Homo sapiens: one gene and its partners. The protein of the gene in region 1 interacts with the protein of each later gene in a biochemical or structural test. Each region holds a gene or a part of one and is shown in the gene's direction. Other genes may lie near its edges. The genes, in order: GIPC2, CSPG4, NOS1AP, CBY2, SLC6A3, PTPRG and LPAR1.

Region 1 (4,297 bases):
TTTCACCATGTTGGCCAGGCTAATCTCGAACTCCTGACCTCAGGTGATCCGCCCGCCTCCACCTCCCAAAGTGCTGGGATTACAGGCGTGAGCCACCGCGCCGGCCTCCTAAAGAATTCTTAAGACTCTCCTCCCCCAGTACATCTGCTAACCTTAAGTTGAGAAATATGGATTTTCGGGACTGAATTGATGTGAGAGGTGAGGGAAGAGGAAAAATCCTGATACGACGACTCCACAATGTCTGGTCTGGGAGTGCTTGGTGATCCTATTAACTGAAATCAGGAGTAAAAAAAAGAAAAGATAGATGCAGGAGAAATGATGAGGTCAGTTTTGTTCAGTCTCAATTTGGGTTTCCTACAGTACATTCCCTTTCTGGTAGAATAAGCTGGAGTTGGAGACATTTGGTAGACAACAACGTCTGTGAAACCGAGAATGTTGATGTGACCATACAGGAAGAACATGCAAAGCTAAGTAAGAAGGGAAGTTTGTCGAGGAAAAACTGTCGGTGAATGCAACTCCTGGAGACTAGCAGTTAGCAAGGAGCAGGGTGGGGACGGGGAGAGGAGAGGTAAGGAAGCCAAAAGAGGACAAAATTTAAGAAGAATGAAATGGGCAACGCAGACCAAGTAAGATAAAAACCTAAAAGAATTACTTGTATTTGGTAATTAAGATATGATAGTGATTTCACTCCACTGAAATTGCATAGTAAGTGAAATTTCAGTAGTGTGGGGGCAAAGTCTGATCACAGTGCTTCTAAGAGCAGAGAAGTGAGGAAATTTCGTAGCTAATAATTCAAGACTGTTTTGCTTTGTTGTAAAAAGCGTAGTTGGAGGGGACTGGACTTGAAAACAATGCAATAAACGCGAGGTAGGGAATTGAGGGAACTCACACTTCACACCGAATGGCCTCAATTTTCTTTGTACTATATGAGGCAAGGTCCTCTGTAGAGACTAAGAAGGGCAGAGCTGGGGCAAATGGCTTTGGAGGCGTGCTGAATGTTGGGAGAGGAAGCAGCCCAGGAAATAGGCAAAAGGGAAACTCAGAGGTGCCAAGGACCCGGCTGAGGGGGTTTATGAATACAACGTAGCACCAAGCTCAAGGTTATGTGACTTTCTCTTCCAATTCTGCCCTGCAGAGCGTAAGACGCAGAAAATGCAGACGAAGGTTGACTTCTACTTAAATCCCTATCCCCGAAAGTCCAGACGTACGGACCCGAAGGCCTGTGGCCAAATCATGCGTGGGTGCCTACTACAGATTTATGAAAAGCAGAGAAGGGCCAGCGTGTTTGCCTTCTAAGGCGTATTGTTCTGTAGCGTCGGCATCCTCAGGCGTTCACGTAAATAGAGCCATTTTTTACAAGGAGTAGGGATAAACCTGGTGATAGGATGAGGGACTACGTAACTTTCTTTCTCTCCAGATCCATCCCGGGGGAGGCTGGGCGGGCGGGCGGCTGCTCCGGTCCAGGGGTGGAGGTCGGGGCCCTGACCCGACGCAGCCAGGCGGAAGCGCGGCTGCCATTGGAGGCTGCTTTTACCTGCGCGGGGCCCGGGGCGCAAAGTCCGAGGCGCCGGGGGGAGGAGGCGGCGGACGGCAGCGCAGGTGGGCCCGCGCTCTCGGCCCTGCAAGATGCCCCTGAAGCTGCGGGGGAAGAAGAAGGCCAAGTCCAAGGAGACCGCCGGGCTGGTGGAGGGCGAGCCGACGGGCGCGGGCGGCGGGAGCCTCTCAGCGTCCCGGGCTCCCGCACGCAGGCTGGTCTTCCACGCGCAGCTGGCGCACGGTAGTGCCACGGGCCGAGTGGAGGGCTTCTCCAGCATCCAGGAGCTCTACGCCCAGATCGCGGGCGCGTTTGAAATCTCGCCGTCGGAGGTAAGGCGCCAGGTGCTCAGGCTCTCCCGCCTCTCCGCCGCGCCGCGCCGCGCCGCGCGTATTTCTGTGGGCCCAGGAGGGTTGAGCGGCGTTTCCCGGAGCGCGAAATCCGATGCCGTGTTGAGTCCGCCGGGGGCGTCCCGGGGGAAAGTGAGTGTGCCTTCCCTGGAAGGGAAAATTTAACTTGGCAGGACCGCAGAAAGTCACAGTCCCCCTTGCTCCGAGATCTGGCCTTTGGGAAGCGGGTTGAGGGAGGCAACCTTTCTTCCGCTTGCAAATGTGTTTGCTCCAGATGTCCCGGATTCCGCCGGCCGTTCAAGGCGTGAGCACCTTCCCAGACTCGAGATCTGGCGGGGCAGATTAATACCCTCCACTTCATCTGGACTTTACTCTCCTGTTTCCTCCGCAGGCGTGAGAGTCACGCAGGTCATCTCCCTAGATTAACGGGGGAAAAAAAAAATAGAAGTGCCTTGCAGGTGATACCCAGATTAAGTGGGGGGGAAAACATTGAAGAGCCTTCCAGGTAATACCAAACGGAGGCCCACTTTCCCCCAATCTGTCATTTCTAACATCAGCACCAGAAACCCTTTGGTGGTATTTCCAAGAAGTTTAAAAAGCTGGGCTGTTATTCCAAGAGTGGATAACCTAGAGATTCATACTTAATCACGTGGGACTAGTTAACAAAATTTTCATGAGGAAGATCAGCTCTTTTACATCGTATCCTTAAAAAGGGACTGAAATTTGCTTTAATTAGATTTCATGGGGGCCTGGAACTAAGTTTGACACAGGCATGACCTAAAGCACTAGTTTATGTGAACGTTTATGTGACCACTTTATTTGTGCTAACCCAAGTGAACTGCAAAGGTAGGTGTGAAAAGTTAGCTCAACAAAATATTTTGTCCACATTTCTAGGAAAAGCATATAATTTTGTTGCCCTGGACTCAGAGGAGTGCAGAGAGCTGTCTTTGAGGCCTACAGCGGCACCTGGAGTTCTTTAATTAGTTGTTTATCAGGTCTGTTCAAGGGAAATTGAGGTCAAGGCAAAATTCCAAGAGGAGACGAAAGAGAGCTTAAAGTGTAACCCTTTGTTCTTTCGAAGTTCCCAGGCACTAAGGGGCAAATCGCAAACCCATCTGTGAATTATTTGTATTGATATAGGATACTAATAATACTTCACATTTATATAGGATTTTTTTTTTTTCAAAAAACACTTTCACAGGACACTTTCCTTTGATCTCTAGGGGAGGCAGGTGGCAGGTTAAATACGATAACTTGGACATGGAGCCAGGTTCTACCCTTTACTAGCTGTGTGGACTTGAATGAGTTTAACTTCTCTCAGTTTTCGCCATCTGTAAAATAGAGATTAGAATATTTGTCTTGAAGAGTATTGTGAAGAGTGGAGTCCGTATGTAAACGTATCAGATTGCATAGTTTATGGTTAGGGCTTAATACATGGTAACTAATATGATTAATACCTAACAGTTAAATGAAGGACTGAAGTACAAAGTGATTGGCCCTTAGCCAAGGTCACATACCTAGCAAAAAAAAACTTGACTGTAATTTAAACTTGGATCTTCTGATTCCTAAGCTAGTGAGCTTGTTAGCATACTTAACTGACAACTTTAAATGTCTTTGCTGTAACCAGGGACTTCAGTTTTAGTTACAGATGGTCCTGGGTTTATGATAGTTAGACTTAAGATTTTTGACTTCGCCATGGATTTATTAGGATGTAACTTCCTGGACTTAAGATTTTTCCACTTTATGGGTTTATTGGGGTATTAAATGCATTTTTGACTTATGATATTTTTGACTCACAATGGATTTATTGGGACATAACACCTTGGTAAGTAGAGGAGCATGTGTATTTTGCATTAACACTTCTCATCATTATATATGACATTATTCTGAGCTCAAGGTACATGATTTTATTCAATCTACTTAATCCCTAAGAAGTAAGTATTATTATTAATATCCCCACTTCACAGAGAGGAAACAGACTTTGAGGTTCAGAATTTTTCCAGAATTACACATAGCAAGTGGCAGAGCCTGGATTTGAATTCAGTGTATTCTTTTTTTTTGTTTTCTGTTTTTCTTTTCTTTTTTTTTTAATGAGATGGGGTCTCACTCTGTTGCCCAGGCTGGACTGCAGTGGTGCGATTATAGCTCACTATAGCTTCAAACTCCTAGGCTCAAGCAATCCTCCTGCTTCACCCTCCCAAGTAGCTGGGACTACAGGCATGTGCCACCACATCTGGCTAATTAAAAAAACTTTTTTTTAGAGATGTGGTTTTTCTGTGTTGCTCAGTGTGGTTTGAAACTCCTACTCTCAAGTGATCCTCCTACCTCAGTCTCTTGAATAACACAGACACGGAGCCATTGTGCCCATCTTTTTTTTTTCCTCCCATGAAGCTATATTGTTACCCAAGTTTTC
Region 2 (3,500 bases), on another chromosome or scaffold:
CCAGAGGCAGAGTGGATCCTAGGGGCAGATGAGCTGATGAAAGGCAGCTGAGTCAGCCAAGAGGGTGAAGCTGCTGTTCATCCGTCCTGGTGGCTTCAGAGACCACCAGGAAGAATTAGAGCTCTCAGCCATGGGTAGCAGCAGACTCTCTGTGATAACTGTGCCATGGGGGCCAGCCCAGTCATCACTTAAATGAACACCACTCGCTGAAGACAGAACAGGAGTTGTTCCATAGCAGGGCAGAGCGGGGCAGACTCTTCCATGGGCCATCCCAGGCAGGCGGCACATGTGATGCTCCCGCCAGGAGGCTGCATGGGCATCTGGACCCAGCACATGATGACAGTGAATTCTGGGTAGGGAGTGGTCTTGTGGGGCGCAGAGCTGACTCTCACTCAGGAGCCACAGCATATGGTACTGCCCCAAGTACCTCCTGAGGGGTCCCCCTGCCAGCCTTCAAAAAATGGCAGAGCCCACCCCAGCCCCCTTTCCTAGCTCGGCAGGGACTCCTGAGCCTGGCACTCTCCCTCCTGAGAGGTGCAGATGGTATTCAGCAAGTGCAAAGGCAAAGTCCCTGCCCAGCAAGTGGCTCAGATTTGGGCATCTGGAAGGAGGTGGCTTTGACAGGTGGAATGAAGTTTCTTGGGCTTCTCACATCAACACCTCCCAGTCCCAGGTTCTGTATTTCCCTGGCTCCCCACTCCTGCTATGGCCCCCTCCCCACAATGAGATATTTGTCAGGCTGGTGTCTGCAGCTGCTGCGTACCCTCAGTTGCTGGGAGCCTTTGTCAAGAATGCCCAGGAATGGAGAGGGCACGGGACCAGGCCATCAGCAACCCTCTTGCACTTTATAGTCCCACGTTACTCAGAGCTTCCCCGTGCCCCAGAAATATGAAGGACTAGACTGAATGGACACCAGGGGGTCAGGCTGGCAGTGCCACCCAGGAAAGCAGGGAAGAGGCTACGTGGGCTACCCTGGCCCACTCTGGGAGGAGGGCAGGACTGGGTATTGTCTTGACAGCAGCCCTGTCCCACAACACTAAACTGGGCAGGGAAGGGGTCAGGTGTCCCCATTTTTCAGATAAGGAAACAGGCTCGTGGAGGGCAGGTAACTTTATTCAGAGCACATGGCGAGTAAGAGGCAAAACTTCTGCCTGCGAGTCCAGGATTTCCTTCACTGGAGGACACTGCTTGCTCCCCAGAGCTCAAGACCCTGTTTTTTGTCTCACTCCCACCCACAGAGCTCCCGTACCCAGGCATCAGCTCCCACTCCCACTCCTGGGGGCTCCATTTCCTTCCTGCCCACCATTCAGCCTGGGCCAGAAGTTGCCACTGGCAACTCTAGTCCTGGGCCAGATCTGGCCCACAGACGTGTTTATTTGGCCTACAAAAAGCAGCTAATACTTTGAAGTTAATTGTCAACATATAACCTTTGGGAAATTAAACAAAAAACTTGATTCCCATTTTCTTAAAAGGCCTGTGTTCCCTCTTACAGCGAAAGCAGGGGAGCAGCCACTTCCTTTAGAACAGGTGCTAGCCCCTATTCAGATAGCTCGGCTCTCCTTCAGACTGGGCTCAGCTGCCCTTTAGCCCAGGCTCTGCTCCCCTTAGACCAGGCCCTGCCCCCACCTCAGACTGGGCCCTGCCTCCCCTTAGCCCGGCCCTGCTCTCCCTTAGCCCAGGCCCTGCCCCATCTTAGACGGGGCCCTGCTCCCCTTACTCCGGCCCCTGCTCCCCCTTACTCCGGGTTCTGCTCCTAGAGTCTTCACAGGTTAAGACCCTGTTAAGTTTCCATGTTACTATTGGGCAAGTCCTGTTTTTCTCTGAGAAGAAAATAGTTCCCAGTGTTTCCTAAAAGGGGAAAATAAGGCCGGGCGCGGTGGCTCACAGCTGTAATCCCAGCACTTTGGGAGGCCAAGGCGGGTGGATCACGAGGTCAAGAGATCGAAACTATCCTGGCTAACATGGTGAAACCCCATCTCTACTAAAATACAAAAAATGAGCTGGGCGTGGTGGCACGCATTTATAGTCCCAGCTACTCAGGAGGCTGAGGCAGGGGAATCGCTTGAACCCGGGAGGTGGAGGTGGAGGTTGCAGTGAGCCAAGATCGTGCCACTGCATTCCAGCCTGGGCGACAGAGCAAGACTCCGTCTCAAAAAAAAGGGTGGGTGGGGAGCAAAAGATAGGCCAAAAGAACACATTGTGATTGGAGGTGGAGAAAACCGTTTTTCTTCCTGGAGCGAAGAATATTCTTTGGTGTTGAACTGCAGGCAGCACCATAGAACAGCAGGTGTGTCTGGAGTGGAGGTGAGGGGAGTTGAGGTCGCAGGGGTGATATGGTCACAGCCAGGCCTTAGTGGTCAGATGGGGAGACACTGCACTATGTGAGCCAAAGAGCCCCATAATCTTCCCTTTCAAAAGGCTCACTCTGGCTGCTGTGTTAGGAACAAAATGTAATGGGCGGGGGACTGCAGCTGGGACACAGGAAGCTGTTACGATAATCCAGGTGAGAGATGCGGTGGTTTGAGGGAAAGAGAGGATGCAAGGGTGGTTCCAAGGGTGTGGCCTGAGCCCTTGAAAACGGAGCTATAGTCTCTGAAGCAGGATGACTGTAGGAGGTGGGGGCCGATCGGGAGTGCAGCCGGGGCAGGTTGAGTTTGAGGTGTCTATTAGATATCGGCAGAGGTAGCTGGAAACATGAGTCTGGGGTTCAGGGGAGAGCAGGCTAGGCTGGAGCTACAAATAAGGGGGTCTCAGCACAGCTGGCATTTGAGGCCAGGAGACTGAATAAGGACTCATGGAGAGTGCCTGTAGACAGAAAAGAGCCTGGAGACCTGGCCATAAGATGTTGGGGAGAAGAGGAGGACCAGCCAGGAGAGTCTGTGAGGTAGGAGGAACCCCAGAGTGAAGTATCCCAGAGCCTGTGGCTCTCTTGGAGGAAGGGTTGCTTGGCGGCACCAGTGCCACTGAGCAGTTAAGAGGAGGCTGAGAGCCGACCGCTGGATCCAACAACACGGAGGCCTCTGGTGCCCTTGGCAAAAGGAGATGTGGCGATGGGGGAGCAAAATCCTGGGTAGAGAGACCCAAGAATGCCTGGGGGAGAGCGTGGACTATGCTTTTTGAAGTTTTGCTGCAAAGAGAAGCAAAGGGGCAGGGGTGAAGCTGGTGGAAAATGTGAAGTCAAGAATAGTTTTTTCTGGCCAGGTGCAGTGCCTCCTGCCTGTAATCCTAGCACTCTGGGAGGCCGAGGCAAGTGGACCGCTTGAGCCCAGAAGTTCAAGACCAGCCTGGGCAACATAGTGAGACCCTGTCTCAACAAACAATAAAAAAAAATAGCTGGGTGTGGTGGCATGTGCCTGCAGTCCCCGCTACTTGGGAAGCTGAGGTGGGAGGATCGCTTGAGCCCTGGAGGTCGAGGCTGCAGTGAGCCATGATCACGCCACTGCAGTCCAGTCTGGGCAACAGAGCAAGACCCTGTCTCAAAATAATAATAATAATAATTA
Region 3 (3,500 bases), about 84 Mb from region 1:
GCACATTCAAACACCATGTTAGTCAAGACCTAAGCAGAGGTGGAAGCACGAGCTTTTCTGTCCTACATGCTCCTGGTAAGAGCCTTCTCTGGCTGTTTTCCACATCCCTGCAGAGCAGTGTCTATGCAACTGCACAATCACTGGGATTTCAGGGTTAAATCCACATCGCAGTCTTCCCTTGTTTTGGAAAAATGCAGGCTGGAAAATGCAAATGTATTATTGTTGCCTTGTCGGGTACCCTTGGAAAATGAGTGCAGCTCTTTCTCTCCCAAGGGCTGGCAGTTTTTCAGAATCAACATTGGATTGAGTGTTCCTTTGGAAGTATGCCACTCATTTTCAGGGTTCTGCAGAGATTGAAAGGTGTGGGGTTAGGATCGAAGGGCATCTGGGTGGCAGAGGTTCTGTGCACTTAAAAACCCATGCATTTAGTTATCAAGTGCAATCCCAGATTTTTTTCACCTGCAGTACCTCATTTAATTCTCACTACTTCCCTAGGAGATGGGTCTCCTTATGTCTATTTTATAAACGAGGACATAGGCTCAGGGAGGTTGTTGCGTGCCTTAGTGCTCACAGTTGTGTATGACAAAGCCAAGATTTAAGCCTGGGGCTTTGACTTCAGACTCCCAAATCCAGTGCCTTTTCATTCAATAATTTTTATGGAATATTCACTCTATGTTGGCCACGGGTTTGAGTCACAGCTCTCTAGTGGAGTGTTCTCAGGTTGCTGGCCTCTAGAACTCTGGTACAGGAAATTATTCAAACATTTATTTATTTATTTATTTATTTTGAGATGGAGTTTTGCTCTTGTTGCCCAGGCTGGAGTGCAATGGCATGATCTCAGCTCATCACAACCTCCAACTCCCAGGTTCGAGTGATTCTCCTGCCTCAGCCTCCTGGGTAGCTGGGATAACAGGCATGCGCCACCATGCCCAGCTAATTTTGTATTTTTTGTAGAGATGGGGCTTTCTCCGTTTTGGTCAGGCTGGCCTCGAACTCCCGACTTCAGGTGATCTGCCTGCCCCAGCCTCCCAAATGTTGGGATTACAGGCGTGAACCACTGCGCCCGGCTCAAACTTTTAATGCTTGGCTGTTTCCAGATTTCCCTTTGGGCTGAGAGCTGCTTGCCAGGGAAACCTGTTGTCTGTGTTCAGAGTGGGTACCTGGCTTACTGACTGATGCTGGTGGGTGGGTAAATCTCACATGCCCTGAGAGCCTGTGGCTCCTTAGTAACTGCCTCCTGATCTCCCAGTATGTCTTCCTGGTGGCCAGTGCCATCAACTGACTGTCTCTCCTCTCTTGGTGAGAAAGAGACTTTTAATGCTATGGGTACAAAGGATAATAAGAGTATTAATAATAGTTATATCTTATATCTGTAGGTGATTTTTGATTTGCATTGGACTTCTACATACAAAGACTTTTCCTCTTATAGAGACAGGCACAGGCACATTAGTGTTATCTCGATTTTTCAGACCAAAAAATGGAGATCAGAGAGATTAATTTGTCCAGAGTTGCAAATTGGTGTATCAGTTAATGATATTTATTGAGCACTTACTATGTGCCATACATTATTCTAGCCTCTGCCTCACTTAATCCTCACACTCCAGGGCTTTTGACTCCAGGTCCATGGTTCTTTCACCTCCTCCAAGGCTCACTCAAACCTGAAGTATTAATAGTTGCTCCCTTTGTAGTCCTAACACTCATTGCCTAGATTGTTCCCTTATATCTGCGTGTATGATACAGATGGTCAGAACTGGAAAGCACCATGGCTCATCTAGTACAACCCCCTCACCCCATCATTGTACAGATGAGGAAATTGAAGTTTGGAGGGGAAGTCATGGACCCAAGGTCACATAGTCAGATAATAACAGAACCAGGACTTATCCCTGGTTCCCTGGCTTCAAACTGGTTTCAGTTATCCATCACTTCAAAACAAACGACCTCAAGACTCAGTAGCTTGAAACAATAACTGTTTAATTTGCTTATGAATCATGGCTCAGGAATTCAGGCAGGGCTTGGCTGGGCTGTTCTTCTGTTGCTTATGGCGTTGACTGGATCACTCACTTTGCTGCATTCATCCACAGCTAGGCTGGAATGTTCAAGAAGGCTTCACTCATATGACTGTGCCTTGGTCGTCCTTCATGTGACTATTCTCTTCACTGGCTGGCTTGGATTTCCTCACAGCATGGTGGCCCTTTTGTTTGGCAGCTGGTTTTCAGTAGGGGGTGTTCCAAGCAGGAAAGCAGAAGCTCTTAAGGTTGGGTCTTTCTGAGTTACATAGGGTCACTTCTGCCACATCCTGTTGGTCAAAACAGGCTATTAGGGAAGAGACATAAGCCCTACTTCTTGATGGGGGAATGTCAAGTTCACATTGCAAGATTGCACGTGGGATGAGAGATATTGCTGAAGCTGTTTACCACACAAAATTCTGTTTTTTCCTCTCTGCATATATCTTCTCTGGTGATATGGAATGTTCTTTGAGGACCTTGCCTCATGCCTTGGTGTATCTCCCCCTCCCAAGCCTCAACATCAGGTACAAACATAGTCACAATGAAAAATTGTCAAGTGGAAGAAATGACCAATTGTGGAAAGTCTGAAAGCAGTAAATATCATTGCTGAGTGATTTTGTGGCTTGGGAGCATGTGGTCAGATTGAAGCTGAATTCTCTGGCTATATTTCCTTCCTTGCTACCTGGCTTCATTGGTTGATGGTTTCCCTGATGTGGATTTTAGAGATTCCAGTAACCTCAGCAGGATATCTGTGGATGCCTCTTAAACATACGGCCATGAAGGCCTCCAGATGAATGACATTTGGTCACCGTAAATGGGGTATCCCTGACTCGTCTGAGCCTGCATGGCATGGTACAGAGCTCTCAGAACCATTCCACTATACACTGGGTGTTTATGTCCCCTTTCTCCCTTCTCTCCACCCAGACTAAGGGTCCTGTCTTCCAGGGTTCTGGAACAGTAGCAATTCAGATTAAGGGTCTGATGTATTTTCTGATGTCATCATTAAGGAGGAGACGTAGTTCACTTTCTTATGCTTTTCCAGATGCTTTTAAAAACACTTATCTTCTGCCCAGACTACTTTTTTTTTTGGTGGGGGGCAGTGAGTTCCAAAGATACAGTACTGCTCTGAAATGACACCTATTTTATTTGTCCTTACATTGCTCTCAGATGTCCCAGTATGTTCCTCCACACCTGGTATCTTGGGATTTGATGGACAAATCTATTTCCACGTTAGCTGTACATTTCATGATTTTATGGCTTTCAGTCGTAGTTCCTTTGCCCACAATGTCCCAGTCCTTTTTAGTGGTCAAAATCATGCAGCCACATCTAATGATGACCTTTGCCAGTTATCTATACTAATCAGGCTTGACTCACTGTTTACTATTGCCTACTCATAATGCAGCTACTCCCAAGACTCAAACTTTCAGAATGCTTTCGCTGGCTATAATTACCTGCCTTCCCTTTATACCTTTGTTGCCTTGAGGATGCTCTTAG
Region 4 (4,219 bases), on another chromosome or scaffold:
CAATCCTAGACAAGGTTGGGACTCTCATCCATAATCCTAAACCACAGGGTGGGACTTGAACCCACAGTCGTTATGATGAGTTCAAAGACAATTAAAAGTACAGGGGCATATTAACAAGGTACTCACCAGAAAGATGTCTAATCCAGAAGCAATTTATTTTCCCAAAAGAGAAGTGCCAAGGGAGCCTGAAGTGCCATGGTGGAGAAGAAGGAACCCTATAGTCGAGCCTCTGGACACCCTGGTCTAGGTGGCCACTCAGGATCAGTGCAGGGGGCCTGCACACCACTAGGGGCAACAGTACCTTGGACAGGCTGTTCGTCTCACCTGGGGTTCTAGTTTGTTAACAAGCAAAAGGGGCTCACTGCCCAATGTGCTAGAAGCCAACACTGACACCAAATTTTTGAAAAAAAGAAAAGCTTTATATTAAAAGTCACCTCTGAAGGAGACAGGAGTCAAGCTCAAATTTGTCTCTTTCTGCTGGCATTAAGGCAGTACTTTTATTAGAAAAGGTTCAGGGGGTGGATTCTGAGATTAGTAGGTGATTTGTGCAAGGAAAAGGGAGGTCTGGAAAGTCCTTGGGCATGCATAGTTATTTCTTCATGTTAACTCCTGAGTTGCATGGCAAATTCAGGGAGAGTTAGTATGAAACGTGGTGGAAATTCAGGCTATGACATCAGCAAGCTTATTCTGTGCAAGCTCCAGTTAGCCATCTTGGTTCCAACCAGTTTCAGCCAGGTTTTTCTTGATCTCACAAGTGGAGGGAGTTTCAGCGGCTTAAGTTTCTTTTCTTATCTGCTATCTTGAAACTCAAAAATTAAGTAACTGGTTTCTTACTCTTTGGGACTTTCCAGACCTCCCATTTCCATCCACCAATCACCTACTAATCTCAGAATCCACCCCCTGAATCTTTTCTAATAAAAATACTACCTTAATGTCAGCACAGAGAGACAGATTTGAGCTTGACTCTTGTCTCCTTGGGAGTTGACTTTCAATATACAAGTTTTTCTTTTTTAAAGAACTTAGTGTTTTAGTATTGGCTTCTATTGCATTGGGTAGTGAGCCGCTTCAGCTCTGTAACACTAACTCTGGTAGATAGCATCAGGATGAAATTGAATTGTAGGGCACACAGTTGGTGTCAGAGAATTAAGGAATTGAGTAGTGTCAGAAAACACCTCAGACTACACTTTCTCCCTTGGTATGGGAAGAGTTCAGTTTGTGTTTCTTTCTTCTTGAGTGACCCAACTCCAAGAAGATGCCACTTCTGGAGAGAGAATAGGGATCTCAACTTAGCCTGGCAGTGAGAATACGAATGGCAGCTGGAATGACCCAACAGGGGGCTAATGTTTGGGCTATTGTGTGTGTCACACTGACCCTGACCAGCCAAGTAGTCACAGCACCCACAAGCTCTTCCTGCCTGTCAGATGCCTCATTCCCACCTGTGATGCTCAGAGAGAAACCATGAGCCCTGAAAAACACCATATTGTTTTGTGATGTCACCTCTGGAATGTTCTGAGTGTTTTGGTGACCAACTTCTGCATAGGACCTATACCTGGCAACTCACATTGGTATGGCTTTTTACTTGAGATAGAAATAATCATCTTAGACAGGGAAGCAGGTACAGCTATCTCCACTTCAAAAACTTTCAAAAGCCTTTTACATCAACTATAATATCTAGCTTAATATCTGTTCAGAGATTGATAAACCATCATGCCAGATATCATCTACACGTTCTTTCAGACTCAGACTTTCATAATTGTACATAATTGACAAGAGAGAAATAAATGAGTAGAAAGTTCTGTGTTTTTTAGGCGAGCAATTGAGGCCCAGAGGATGAGCTGGGAAGCAGTAATCTTCTTCTTTTCTCGTTTCCACAGCACTCAAGGCCAAATTATACAAGAAAAAGAGATACCAGATCTGAAAGCCTAGAAATTCCAATCAGTGTGGTTCTACCTCAGGTAGGGATAATCACAGAAGGATGTAACCTATCAGTGTTAGCCAGAATAACCCCCCATCTCCTCCTTCAAAACTCTAGCAAGATGTTGTAGAATAAGCAGAGATAGTCAGGGCTTCAGATTATAGTTTGGGTTGGGTGCCAGCAGGCGGTGTGCTGGGGAAGGCCACATAGCCCCTCTGGGCCTTGGGTTCTTTTTCCCATGAATGAGGTGGCTGGGTCAGATGATCTGGTAAGAACTTCCAGTCCTAACATTCCAAGTTTCTATGATACACTGAAGTAACCCAGCCTTCTCAAAACGAGATCTTTTGGTGCTTAGTGTTGTGCAATCACTCTGGATTTCTGGGGGAGAATTAGAACTGGGACTTGAAATCAAATGCATAAGAATGAATCCATGAGAAGAAAACCTCATCCGTGGACAAAGGGGTACAGAGTTATTTGGAGCTGTCAAGAGAATTAAGCCCTGCTATGCATCAAAGACAGATGTAGGGGCCATGGGCATAGATGCTTTTTCAGTCAATGAATTGGTGAAGTCCTCACAGGCTATAGAGTCTCAGGTCTCCTCCTGCCTGCAATCAGCTGTTTCCTTAGTGGAGTCCTCTTGATTGAATTGTTTCTACTGCTGCTATGTCACAAAGGGGTGGCTTTGCTTTCTCCAGAGTCACCTAAGTCCTCATTGGAAGACCAGGGCCATGCAACCAGAGGGGTTGAAATGTAGGATGGAGGAATCCAATGCAGAGGTAACTATCTGAGAGCTCTGTCCAGGGATGTGTAGGAGGAGGATTGACCACTGGTGGGCATTCCATATATATAATTGTAACAATCTAGGCAAGTATGTTCAGCGGGAGGCAAAAATATGGAAGAAGAAAACATCCTGGATGTTTATTTTCACATTATCTTTATAACTTTGTAATGAACAGTCACTTTTCTGTTACTTTTAGCCCATGAATCTTAGCCAGAATATAAGATAACTTCCCCCTGATCATTCAACAAGATAACAAGCTGTAGGAATCTTTTTGGGCCTGATTCTTTCCACCTGAAATACGCAGGGAGTTGTGTTAGCCACTACTCCCCCAAGAGTGGGTGTTACTGCTGTGATTCCTCATAGCCCATATAAACCAATCTTTTCTTCCAGAATCCTGGGGCCCCTCAACTTTACATGCTTTGAAAGTACCTCAGATGGCTGAATGTTCTCTGATAGTAACCCTCGGTAATGTTAGCAAAGTTGGTGTTTAAGAAACTTGGTCAGGCAGAGGATGCCAACCTAGGGGTGGGTGTGAAGGAGGGGGTAGGATTTGAAAGAGTAGTGGTCATGTGATAGAGAAATTGGAATGATGTTTCCATCAACACCCACCGCAACTTTCCCTCCCCAGCTCCCAGAAACAGCCCAACGATCAAGGAGAAGAGAAGGTGGTTTAAGACAGCTCAAGCTTGTCTTGGGGCTGCCTGCTTCCTGTGCTGGAGGACCTGGTGCTGCTGCTGGGGTCTTGTGGGGCAGAGTGGGTGAAGAATGAGAGGATATCTCCTGTCTGGGCACGTGTACCTCACAAGGGCAGATGCAGCTTCGTGCGTACACCTGCCAAGAGGGCACAAGCCATGCACCAGGTTTTGGACACCTGTCAGGATGCTCAAGACTGGCACTCTGGGGGATGGGTGTGGGTGTCTACAACTAGATGATCCGAACCAAAATACCACCAGGCCTGCGAGAGGGACCAGTGTGCTCACTCTACCTCCCTAAATGAGATGGCACATGGCTTAGGGGACAGGGTTGATCTGGGAAGCAAGGAGAGGAAGAAATATTGACTGAATGTTGGTGCGATCATGTGTCGGGCATGGGGCCAAGCAAGTGTGAGGTAGAGATTTTACAGGTACAGGAACCGGCAACCCCAGGAACCCCACTAGTAATGGCAGAGCTCGAGGAAGGGGCTTGAACTCAAATCAGTGCCCATGTTCTCCGCTATACTAGGGCACATGCCAGTAAGCTGGGCCATGCTGCATCTTAGCTCCATGGTTCTTCTCTTGCTTTTTGGAGATGGAGTCTTCTCCCTGCATCTTAACCACTCATCTCTGGGCTTCTTATTTTGTATTTGCCAAAAGCTGCTCTATTCTGGGATGGAGTCCACTTTCCATTTGTTTCAGAAAGGACTTGTGGCAGCAGCTCTGTCTCCAGAGACTGCCTCTGGCTCCCAGCTGCCAGTCCTGCTGTGCGTTTGGGCTTCTCAATTACATTGGAAATGCCTGTGATCACTACATGTTATCACCCTAAGG
Region 5 (3,500 bases), on another chromosome or scaffold:
AGCGAAGATCGAGGCAGGGCCACCGGGGACGTCCAAGAACATTGGTGATCCCTTCCCAGGAGCCTCTTTGGGCCTCCCAGCCTCCCTGCCTGGCCTCCCTCATTGGCCTCTATGCTAGGTCTGGGAAGGGAGGCCTGGGGAAGAATCTGGGGGGAAGCCTCACAGGATGCCTGCGAGGAGGCTGGCATTTTTATGCCCATCTTGAAGAGGGGAAGACAGAGGCCTCAGCAGGTACAGGAAGTTGCCCAAAGACAGAGCTGAGGGGCCCCATGCCTCCCCCTCCCCTTCCCCAGGAGAGAGAGTGGCAAAGCTCTCCCTCACTCCAGTCAGACCAGGGGAGCAGAGGGAATTTAGGAGGTTGAGACCAGGGTTCCCTGGGCTTTGTGCTGGGGGTGGGGGAGGTGCAGGTTTCAGAGGAACTAGGCCTTACCCTGGAGGGGCTCCCAGCACCTGGGGCAGCAAAGACCCTCAGCCACAGTCAATAGGGGCAGCCTCTGAGGGCCCCAGAAGCTGGGGACAGGACGGCAGGGCCCACTCAGCTCAGGGGCAGAGTTGGGGGGTCACAGATTCACAACTCAAGAGGCAAAGAGGATCAGGGCAAAGTGGGGGGACGCAGGCCAGGGAAGGGCACCCCGAACCACCACGGGGAAGGATAGTACCTAGAGCACCGCTGAGCATGGGCAGGGCCTCCCTGTGCTGCTCTTGGGTTTGACTTCATGGCTCGAGGTGCGCAATGACAAGGGGATCCAGGAGGGACGTGTCAGGCACTGACAGCAGTGGAGGGCGGGCTTCGGGACTCATCTACCCTAGCCTGGGACTTCCCGTTGGAGAGTGGGGTGAAACGGTCGGGCCAGGACATGGATGGTTGACTGGGGTAGCCGCCCAAGCTCCCACGAGGAGAGATGGGCCCTTCCGAGGCCCCAAACTAAAGGTGCTTTTCTGCCCCACAGGTGCCTTCCTGGTCCCCTACCTGCTCTTCATGGTCATTGCTGGGATGCCACTTTTCTACATGGAGCTGGCCCTCGGCCAGTTCAACAGGGAAGGGGCCGCTGGTGTCTGGAAGATCTGCCCCATACTGAAAGGTAATATGCGGGTGCCTCCCTTCACCCTGGCGCAGCGCGGATCATGGTGGTGACGCTGGAGCTTTCAAAGCAAGCCAGCCGCATCATGGGCATCCAGCCCTGCTTTGCTAAGACACAGGCATGGCACACGCCACTTGAACTTGGGTCCCACCTTAAAGATCTGCAGTGACAAGGACTGGATAGTTCATTCCCTTGCTCTAGGTGAGGGTCCTGCAATTCATTTGTGGTGTTACTTTGTCAAGATGCTAAAATGTAGTTAAGATAAAACACATGTCTATCTATGGATCTGCCATCTACCTATCATCCATCGGTCCATCCGTCAATCATCTGTTATCTATCTATCCATTATCTATCTTTATTATTGGTCTTTATATCAATCATTCACCCATCTATCTACCTATCTACCTAATCCATCCATCTATCATCATCATCTATCTGTATCTGTTTCCTGTGGCTGCTGTAACAAATGACACAAACTGGGAGGCTTAAAAGGCACACGTTTATTGTCTCACAGCTCTGGAGGCTGGAAGTCCAAGATCAAGGTGTCTGTAGGGTTGATTTCTTCTGAGGCTGTGAGGAAGCATCTGTTCTAGCCTCTCTCCTTGTCTCAGAGATTGTCTTCTCCCTGTGCCTCTTTATACTTCTTGCTTCTATGCATATCTCTGTAACCAAATTCCCCGTTTTTATGAGGCCAGAAGTCCTGTTGGATTAGGGACACCCTAATGACCTCACTTTAACTTGATCACCTCTGTAAAGACCTTGTCTCTAAATAAAGTCACATTCTGAGGTTTGCGGGGTTAGAACTTCAACAGATGAACTTGGGGGAGGGACACATCCCACAATTCTATCTATCTATTATCTGTCAATCATCTATTCACCCGTCTGTCATCTACCCATTCATCCATCTATTTTCTTTTGATCCATCCACCTATCAATCCATTCATCCACCCATCCAGTCATCCATCCATTCATCTATCTATGGATCTATCATCCATCCATCCATCCATCCATCCATTATCTATTGATCCATCCATCTACCTATCGATCCATCTATCTATCCATCCATCCATTCATTCATCCATTCATCTATCTATGGATCTATCCATCCATCCATCTTCTATCTATTCATCTATCCATTCATCCATCTGTTATCCATTGTTCCATCCATCCATCCATTCATCTATGTATGGATTAATCCATCCATCCACCTATCGACCTATCCACCTATCTACTAGCTATTGATCCATCTAGTTGTCACTGAACCTTTCCGGCTGCTGATGTCCTGCTCTGGCACCATGAAATGGACACACCTCGTGTTGAGTGCAGGTGGCCTGCCCAGCACCAAGCCCTCTCCCAGCATTTCTGACTCCATCTTCATGAGACCCTGGGAAGGGCACACACTAGGTCTCTGTGTTGGAGATGCAGATGCTGAGGACCAGAGGGCCGGGGTCGTTCCCCCTGGTGTCCCCATCAGAGCAGAGTGGGATTTGATCCCAGACGTTTCTGACTCCCCAATCCCTGCACGCAGGTCACACTTGCCCAGTGGGCCAAAGCCACCTCTCAGGGGCTGGTGGTTCAGGGAGGATTCAGGCATTTACTCAGAGGCACCACTCAGAAAATTGGCATTAAGAAAATGACTACTAGAAGGTCAGCCTCTGGATACTCATAGAAGTTCTGGAAAAGCTGTGTGTTTAGAAGACAGCCGAGCCCAGCACGGCCCCAGGACGCATTACCAATGGGTCAGGGGTGGGCCTTCAGAGGCGAGCCGCTGACCTCCCTTAGGAGAGGGAACAGATGGCATTTCACAGCTGCTGAGGTCAGGCTCCAGGAGGAGAAGTCAGTCTCGCAGCCGTGGAAATGCTGAGACTGGACAGGTGTGATGGTTCTTCCCAGGCACGAGACTCATTCGTTCTTAATGGGCTGCTTAGTGAATCTTATGACTTCAGTAATTTCTTCCTGGGCTCCACATTCACTGGACTGCACTGAAATGGAGCTACAAAAAGAGGCCTCCCTCCCCACCCCCACCCCCACCCCCACCCCACACACATCTTCAGAGTGAGAGACAGATGCTTTGGGCATGCACTGGTGCCAGACGACCCCTTGGCGGGATCTGCAGGTAGAAGTCAAACCGTACAAGAATTGCTCAGAACATGCCTCCGTCCCCGTCGTCAGGTCCCTGATATCAGGTCCCCAATGGAAGAATGCAGCAGCCAACGGAAGACCCAGGCCTGTTGTTACAGACAGACAGGGGCGCGTGTCAAATCCGGCGTTGCAGTGAACCCAGGCTAACAGTTCAAGACACACGCGTTACCTGTGTCCTGCCTGGCCCTGGCCAGCGGCACGGACGTGTTTCAGAGAGGAGTGCTGCCTCTGAGCCTGCAGTCGTAAGCGATGCTGAGCTTGCACCGTGGTCCGTGT
Region 6 (2,770 bases), on another chromosome or scaffold:
TTAGATGTATAGAGTATTGATATGAGTTAACACTTTTTAGTAGATGGCAAAGTGGGCTTGATGTTCAAAAGTAATGTTCGAGTTAGGGTTCATGGTCCCTTTCTCAGTAATTTTTTCTTAATAAAAGTAAACACTGGTTCAAAGACAAATAGCAAGTATTCCCTCCTGTGCTATTTATAGAGGGCTCAATTCGTAGAAAGGCATACCCTCCAATGCAATTCTGTGGCTGTCCCTTACAGTGGTTTCAGAATCACGAAAAAACAGCTAGTAAATAGGATAGAAACAATAAAAGAAAGAGTTTAGAAGTTCCCTGTGAGCAATCTGTGTGTCTTCAGCGAGCTTGAACCAAAGTCTTCATATCCTGACCCACTGAATTATAAGCAATTGCTACTTGCCCATCTTGCCAAAGTAGTCCAAACACACTTCAATGAGGACAGTTATATTTAGCAGGTCCTCACCCCTGCAAGAGACAGCATATCCTCACTATTATTATTCATGTGTTATTGGCAAAAACATAGCTTGCATCTTTCCAGAGGCAGAGTTTCAAAGACAGGGTTTTCTTTGAGACATAAGCACATTGCTTAAGTACATAACAAGGTTATTAACACTTGCACTCAGGGGAAAGGAAATAGCTATTGCAAATTAATGTGTGCAACTTAATAAAATAAGCTGTTTGTGTATATGAATTTAGCTCTAGGTAAGCAAAATGCACACATCATATAAAAATAAATTGCAATGATCAGACCAAGTGGCTGTGCTGGACATCAAAGAAAAGACATGCTGTTGCCATCAGGAGAACTCTTTCTTATATGCGATAGCCAAGATATCTTCTTTAATATGAAAAAAGTTAATTTCTGAATTTCAAAAAGAGTAAGATTAGCTAATTGGTCTTCCTAATTTTTATGCCTTTAGAGTTTTTAGTCTATTCAAGTAGAAGAGTCCAGCGAGGCCAAAGAAGGGTTACGGTGTTCAAGTTCTGGTTGTTGGAGTTTTTAGCCCAGAGTGACATACTGAAATCAGTAAATAATTATTTTATAATGACACAGCACAACTGCCTTGTTATGAATTTTTCTTAAATGCATATATACTGTATTTAAAATTAAAATATAGATACCAATTTACCAAAGATACATATTACTAATTCTAAGCAAAACTAAAAAAAAAACCCAACTCATCATAATTTAAGAATCAAAATGTAGTTTGTCTTAAGAATTTAGTGGTTATACTGGAAATGCATTTTCAACTCCTATGTTCTAAAGTTTATGTTCAAATGGTGCCAGTGAATTTTTATATGAAGGGAAAATGCCTGCTTTTTTTTTTTTTTTAACAGATGTAATTTCACTTAACCCTTTGCGCTTTCCCTTAGTTGTCATTTAACATACAATACTGGCTTTACTTATCTCTAGAAAGAAGAAGGCATGCTACAAATAGGAAGGAATTGTAATAATGATATTTGGCCTCTACTTTGTCTTAGCTGTTAAACTGTTTTTAGTATTTTTGTTAAATATTTGCAAAGGGAAGCATTTTCTACAGAGGATAATTAATTTCAAGAAAAATATCTTGAGTTTTAAGAAATAAACATCTCCAGAAAAGGAGAAAGTCGATTTTATAAAATGTCGCAACTCTCCAACATTTGGGGTAGTGACTCCTTTTTTGTTAGGACATTTGAAACTAGCAAGCAGCCATTGTTTCTAAAGAATTCTGGCTTCACATTGACTCATGTTTCTTTCACTCCATTTTGAAATAGCTAAAAATCATTAAAACTGTAAATATTTTGTTGCTTGGGTAAGCATCTTCTGGGAACTTTGTATCTATGGTATATAATCATAGAATTTTATATTTTCATATAAAGCTAATTTTTTTCTAGTTTCAACTCCGTCATAGTTTTTTTTCCTTTTTGTGGTGGATATGTGAATTCAACTTTCTGTGTATTGAAGTAGCAAAAACCATCTTTACATTCCAAAAGAATCCAACATGTGTTATTTCTTTGAGGCAGTGATTGTGAAAGTTGGGTTTTCTTTTTAATTCCATTGACCATTTGTGCAATAGGAATTAGACATAATTAGTCACTGAAAACATTCGTCACATTGACCCATTTGGAAAAAGTGTGCTTTTTTTTTTTTTTTAAATTTGTTCAGGGGGAGGGGTTTTGTAACCTGAAATTTTTCCCTTTTTCTTCTGTTTAAACTATATCAAATCATTCTATTATAGTGTTATTTAATATGTAAATTGTATTGCTATACATAAAATAAAGTATGGTTTTTGATGTATTCAGTAGTGTTGAGCATTTCTATGAAAATGTCTATATCCAATAAAATAGGTTACTAGTCTCCCTTAACAGATCACATTAATACCCACCAACCCTCTGGTCTAAGTTTTCATGGTAGTAAAATGAACATTGGTAGTCGTCTTTACACAGGCAGCAAACCAAAAAGAATGGTCTTTGCTGGGTTGATTTATCAACGTTCTTTCTCCTTTAAAGAGTAAACAATGACAGTTTTACCTGCTCATCTAAGGAATCAAACTTTATTCAGTTTATGACTCTGCTGCTAAGTTGTGAACAGAATTACTATTTTCTCTAGTGTATCAACTAGGTTTGTAACAACTCTCTTAATATTTACGAGGTAGGATGAAGGATATATCCTGGCAAGAGTTCTGGAGAATCTATATGTGTAAGATCAGTACAATTGCTTCTACTTAACAAGAACTTTTGACATTTCCAAACAGGTATACAAGTCCCAAACTTGGCAGCTTTGGCCTACCATTCTGT
Region 7 (3,500 bases), on another chromosome or scaffold:
GGCTCTTTCTGGAAAGATCTTACACCTTTTAAATTTTAACATGGGAAGAAATTATAAACAACAAATGACAGTGTTTGAATTCTCTCACTTTTGAGCAAAGTCAAGCAGCTTAAGTATGAGAGAATAAAGATATTCCCTTCTGTTGCCCAGAAGGAGAAAAAGATCATTTTATTTAAAATCTAGCTATTGAGATGCATGTTCCTTGTGTCTAATCAAGTTCTGAATTTGAACTCAATTAGAGCTTTGATAAAAGGAAGGGGAAAGGAAACTTGAAAGAATGCTGTTCCATTCATGAAGGGACTGTGTGTTTTTAGTTTCCAAGTAAATGGCATAATGGGACCATGCATTTTCCATCCAAGCATTTTCCATCCTGAGAATAATTCCCTTCCTGGCTTCTCAATGAATAATGCATTATTTCTGAAACCCAAGAGGCATTCCTTTGATTTTCCTTTATGTTTAGCTTTCTGAGTGATTTTCAAGCAAGGAAATTCAAGGACTTGGAATGAATGCTTTATTAACATTTTTATTGAAGTTCAAATTGCTCCTTGGCTATTATCTCCTGATATTTGAAATATTTTTTTCTCTCCAAGGAAAGTCTAAGGTGTTGTATTTATTAGAAAATGAAGTACCTTGGCCAATCTTCAAAGTGAACAGCAGTTTAAAACCAATACACATTTGTGTTGTAGAACAAAGAGCTTTATGGGGGTACTTTTCTCCTTTATTTTCATTTCCCTGCTGAAAAGTTTCACAAAAGAAAGCTCAGATTCAAAAGTGGGCTGTTTGGAGACTAAATCTCATTTGTTTACATTTTGTGAAACTAATTCCTTGAGGCTGGACCAAATCCATGACCCCAGTCCAAGCCTGCATCCACCAAAGCCAGCGCCATTTAAATCTGAAGATGCAAATGCCCTTCTGGGGTTGCTCCTACTTCCGCTCTGCCTGATTACACATATGTAGCCTGCCTGATTACACATATGGGGCCCATTAGGTGAGGTGTAATGGGACACAGTGGTGCCCACCGCTGTTGGCTCATGTTCTTTCAGTAGAAGATCCCCAGCAGAGTCTGGAGTAACACAGTGGTAGGATTTAATGCTATTTTACAACCTCCATTTTCCTGGGATCCAAATGATGAGTGATTTCAGAAACTAAATGAAATAGAATTAAGCATCTCATCTATATTTTCATTCCTCTTACAGTTATAGTAAAATTGTAATGATTCAGAATAATTGGGGGAAGAAAGAGAACAAAGTTGATCTAAATTAGTAGAACATCTGAAATAGTAAATTTGGTTTAAAATATTTAATGTTATCATTTTCAAGATATAGAAATGTAATATTTTCTAGAGCTTGAACTCTGGAGGCAGCCTCTAAGAACAGAAACTCTGGGATTTTTCTGCTTTCCAGTACTGTGGCCTTGAGCCAGTTATATAAACTTTCTGGGTCTCAGTTCCTTCATCTGTACAATGGGGATATTAGTTTCTATGTCATATGGCTACTGTGAAAATTCAATAAATTATTACTGGTAAAGCATATAGGACAGCACTATGTGGGTAGTTGTTGAATAAAAATAAAACATAGATCTTGTCATTGAAAATCACAATTTCCAAACAGGCCCATGCTACTCAGCAGGTAATAATTATTATTGTTATTGTAGATACAGATTGAGTGATTATTTCCTTAACACTTGTTTAATCCATACAACAAACCTTATGAGGTGTAAATATAATCATCTGCATTTTCAGATGGGAAAATTAAGGAAAGAAAGTAGTTTGCCTAAGTTCACCCAGTTTATTACATGTCAAACAAAGATTTGGGCCCAGACAACCTGAATCCAGAAACTATGCCTTAATTAAACATTAAAGGACACTTATCATTCGTGCTTATCTTTTGCCTGAAAATAACACTGCTATTAAAAACCATGTTGTTATGTGAGGTGAAGTGTTTCCTGAATGCAGTTTTTCATATCTCAATTGCTTATCAAACTCTTTGTGTTTTGCTCAAAATAATAATCATCAATGTCTCATAATTGCTTGATTTTAGTAACGTCCAAAATAAAATTTTAAGTTGACTATCGTTAAATTTTTTCTGATTTTCTCAGGAAATGAGTATTTCATTTGCGACAATGGTGGCTTCCAACTTCAGTATTTTTATATTGAACTGAAATCATTTCACTTTATGGTCGCATGTTTTATAATATTTTTTCATTCTCTTTTTAAAAATCCTTCTGATCCCTATCCTTGTCCTTGTAGGGGCCTTTATCATCTGCTGGACTCCTGGATTGGTTTTGTTACTTCTAGACGTGTGCTGTCCACAGTGCGACGTGCTGGCCTATGAGAAATTCTTCCTTCTCCTTGCTGAATTCAACTCTGCCATGAACCCCATCATTTACTCCTACCGCGACAAAGAAATGAGCGCCACCTTTAGGCAGATCCTCTGCTGCCAGCGCAGTGAGAACCCCACCGGCCCCACAGAAGGCTCAGACCGCTCGGCTTCCTCCCTCAACCACACCATCTTGGCTGGAGTTCACAGCAATGACCACTCTGTGGTTTAGAACGGAAACTGAGATGAGGAACCAGCCGTCCTCTCTTGGAGGATAAACAGCCTCCCCCTACCCAATTGCCAGGGCAAGGTGGGGTGTGAGAGAGGAGAAAAGTCAACTCATGTACTTAAACACTAACCAATGACAGTATTTGTTCCTGGACCCCACAAGACTTGATATATATTGAAAATTAGCTTATGTGACAACCCTCATCTTGATCCCCATCCCTTCTGAAAGTAGGAAGTTGGAGCTCTTGCAATGGAATTCAAGAACAGACTCTGGAGTGTCCATTTAGACTACACTAACTAGACTTTTAAAAGATTTTGTGTGGTTTGGTGCAAGTCAGAATAAATTCTGGCTAGTTGAATCCACAACTTCATTTATATACAGGCTTCCCTTTTTTATTTTTAAAGGATACGTTTCACTTAATAAACACGTTTATGCCTATCAGCATGTTTGTGATGGATGAGACTATGGACTGCTTTTAAACTACCATAATTCCATTTTTTCCCTTACATAGGAAAACTGTAAGTTGGAATTATCTTTTGTTTAGAAAGCATGCATGTAATGTATGTATGCAGTATGCCTTACTTAAAAAGATTAAAAGGATACTAATGTTAAATCTTCTAGGAAATAGAACCTAGACTTCAAAGCCAGTATTTGTTTAGGTCATGAAGCAAACAATGCTCTAATCACAATATTAACTGTTTAATTAAAATGTTGTAACAAGTATAAAACAGGGAATGTAAGTTTATTACCAAAGTGATATGTATTCCAAAAAAGTCATAGAAGATGAAGCACTATAATATTGTTCCCATATATTTAAAATACCCAAGTACATTCTAATTACCAGTATATCAGAGGAAAATTTTCGTAGTCTTTGTAAAATAATATACTCATCATAGAAAACTTGAAAAATGCAGAAATGTATAAAAAAGCAAAAATGATTACTGATAATATCA

Evidence for each region.
Region 2: the proteins of GIPC2 (region 1) and CSPG4 interact in a test that uses a peptide from one of them, tested with the Homo sapiens proteins (one large-scale study listed by IntAct).
Region 3: the proteins of GIPC2 (region 1) and NOS1AP interact in a test that uses a peptide from one of them, tested with the Homo sapiens proteins (one large-scale study listed by IntAct).
Region 4: the proteins of GIPC2 (region 1) and CBY2 interact in a test that uses a peptide from one of them, tested with the Homo sapiens proteins (one large-scale study listed by IntAct).
Region 5: the proteins of GIPC2 (region 1) and SLC6A3 interact in a test that uses a peptide from one of them, tested with the Homo sapiens proteins (one large-scale study listed by IntAct).
Region 6: the proteins of GIPC2 (region 1) and PTPRG interact in a test that uses a peptide from one of them, tested with the Homo sapiens proteins (one large-scale study listed by IntAct).
Region 7: the proteins of GIPC2 (region 1) and LPAR1 interact in a test that uses a peptide from one of them, tested with the Homo sapiens proteins (one large-scale study listed by IntAct).

What each region holds. Positions count from the first base shown.
Region 1 is NC_000001.11:78,044,469-78,048,765, forward strand, and holds the start of GIPC2 (PDZ domain-containing protein GIPC2), read left to right. Parts: upstream 1-1,497; 5' UTR 1,498-1,626; coding exon 1,627-1,866; coding exon of another isoform or gene 1,867-2,016; intron 2,017-4,297.
Region 2 is NC_000015.10:75,678,349-75,681,848, reverse strand, and holds part of CSPG4 (chondroitin sulfate proteoglycan 4 precursor), read left to right. Parts: intron 1-3,500. UniProt on the Homo sapiens protein: Proteoglycan playing a role in cell proliferation and migration which stimulates endothelial cells motility during microvascular morphogenesis. May also inhibit neurite outgrowth and growth cone collapse during axon regeneration.
Region 3 is NC_000001.11:162,072,691-162,076,190, forward strand, and holds part of NOS1AP (carboxyl-terminal PDZ ligand of neuronal nitric oxide synthase protein), read left to right. Parts: intron 1-3,500. UniProt on the Homo sapiens protein: Adapter protein involved in neuronal nitric-oxide (NO) synthesis regulation via its association with nNOS/NOS1. The complex formed with NOS1 and synapsins is necessary for specific NO and synapsin functions at a presynaptic level.
Region 4 is NC_000013.11:45,700,901-45,705,119, forward strand, and holds the start of CBY2 (protein chibby homolog 2), read left to right. Parts: upstream 1-1,419; 5' UTR 1,420-1,490; coding exon 1,491-1,565; exon of another isoform or gene 1,566-1,615; intron 1,616-1,874; coding exon 1,875-1,955; intron 1,956-2,610; coding exon of another isoform or gene 2,611-2,691; intron 2,692-4,219.
Region 5 is NC_000005.10:1,438,941-1,442,440, reverse strand, and holds part of SLC6A3 (sodium-dependent dopamine transporter), read left to right. Parts: intron 1-950; coding exon 951-1,082; intron 1,083-3,500. UniProt on the Homo sapiens protein: Mediates sodium- and chloride-dependent transport of dopamine. Also mediates sodium- and chloride-dependent transport of norepinephrine (also known as noradrenaline). Regulator of light-dependent retinal hyaloid vessel regression, downstream of OPN5 signaling.
Region 6 is NC_000003.12:62,295,340-62,298,109, forward strand, and holds the end of PTPRG (receptor-type tyrosine-protein phosphatase gamma isoform 1 precursor), read left to right. Parts: 3' UTR 1-2,270; downstream 2,271-2,770.
Region 7 is NC_000009.12:110,874,471-110,877,970, reverse strand, and holds part of LPAR1 (lysophosphatidic acid receptor 1), read left to right. Parts: intron 1-2,248; coding exon 2,249-2,550; 3' UTR 2,551-3,500.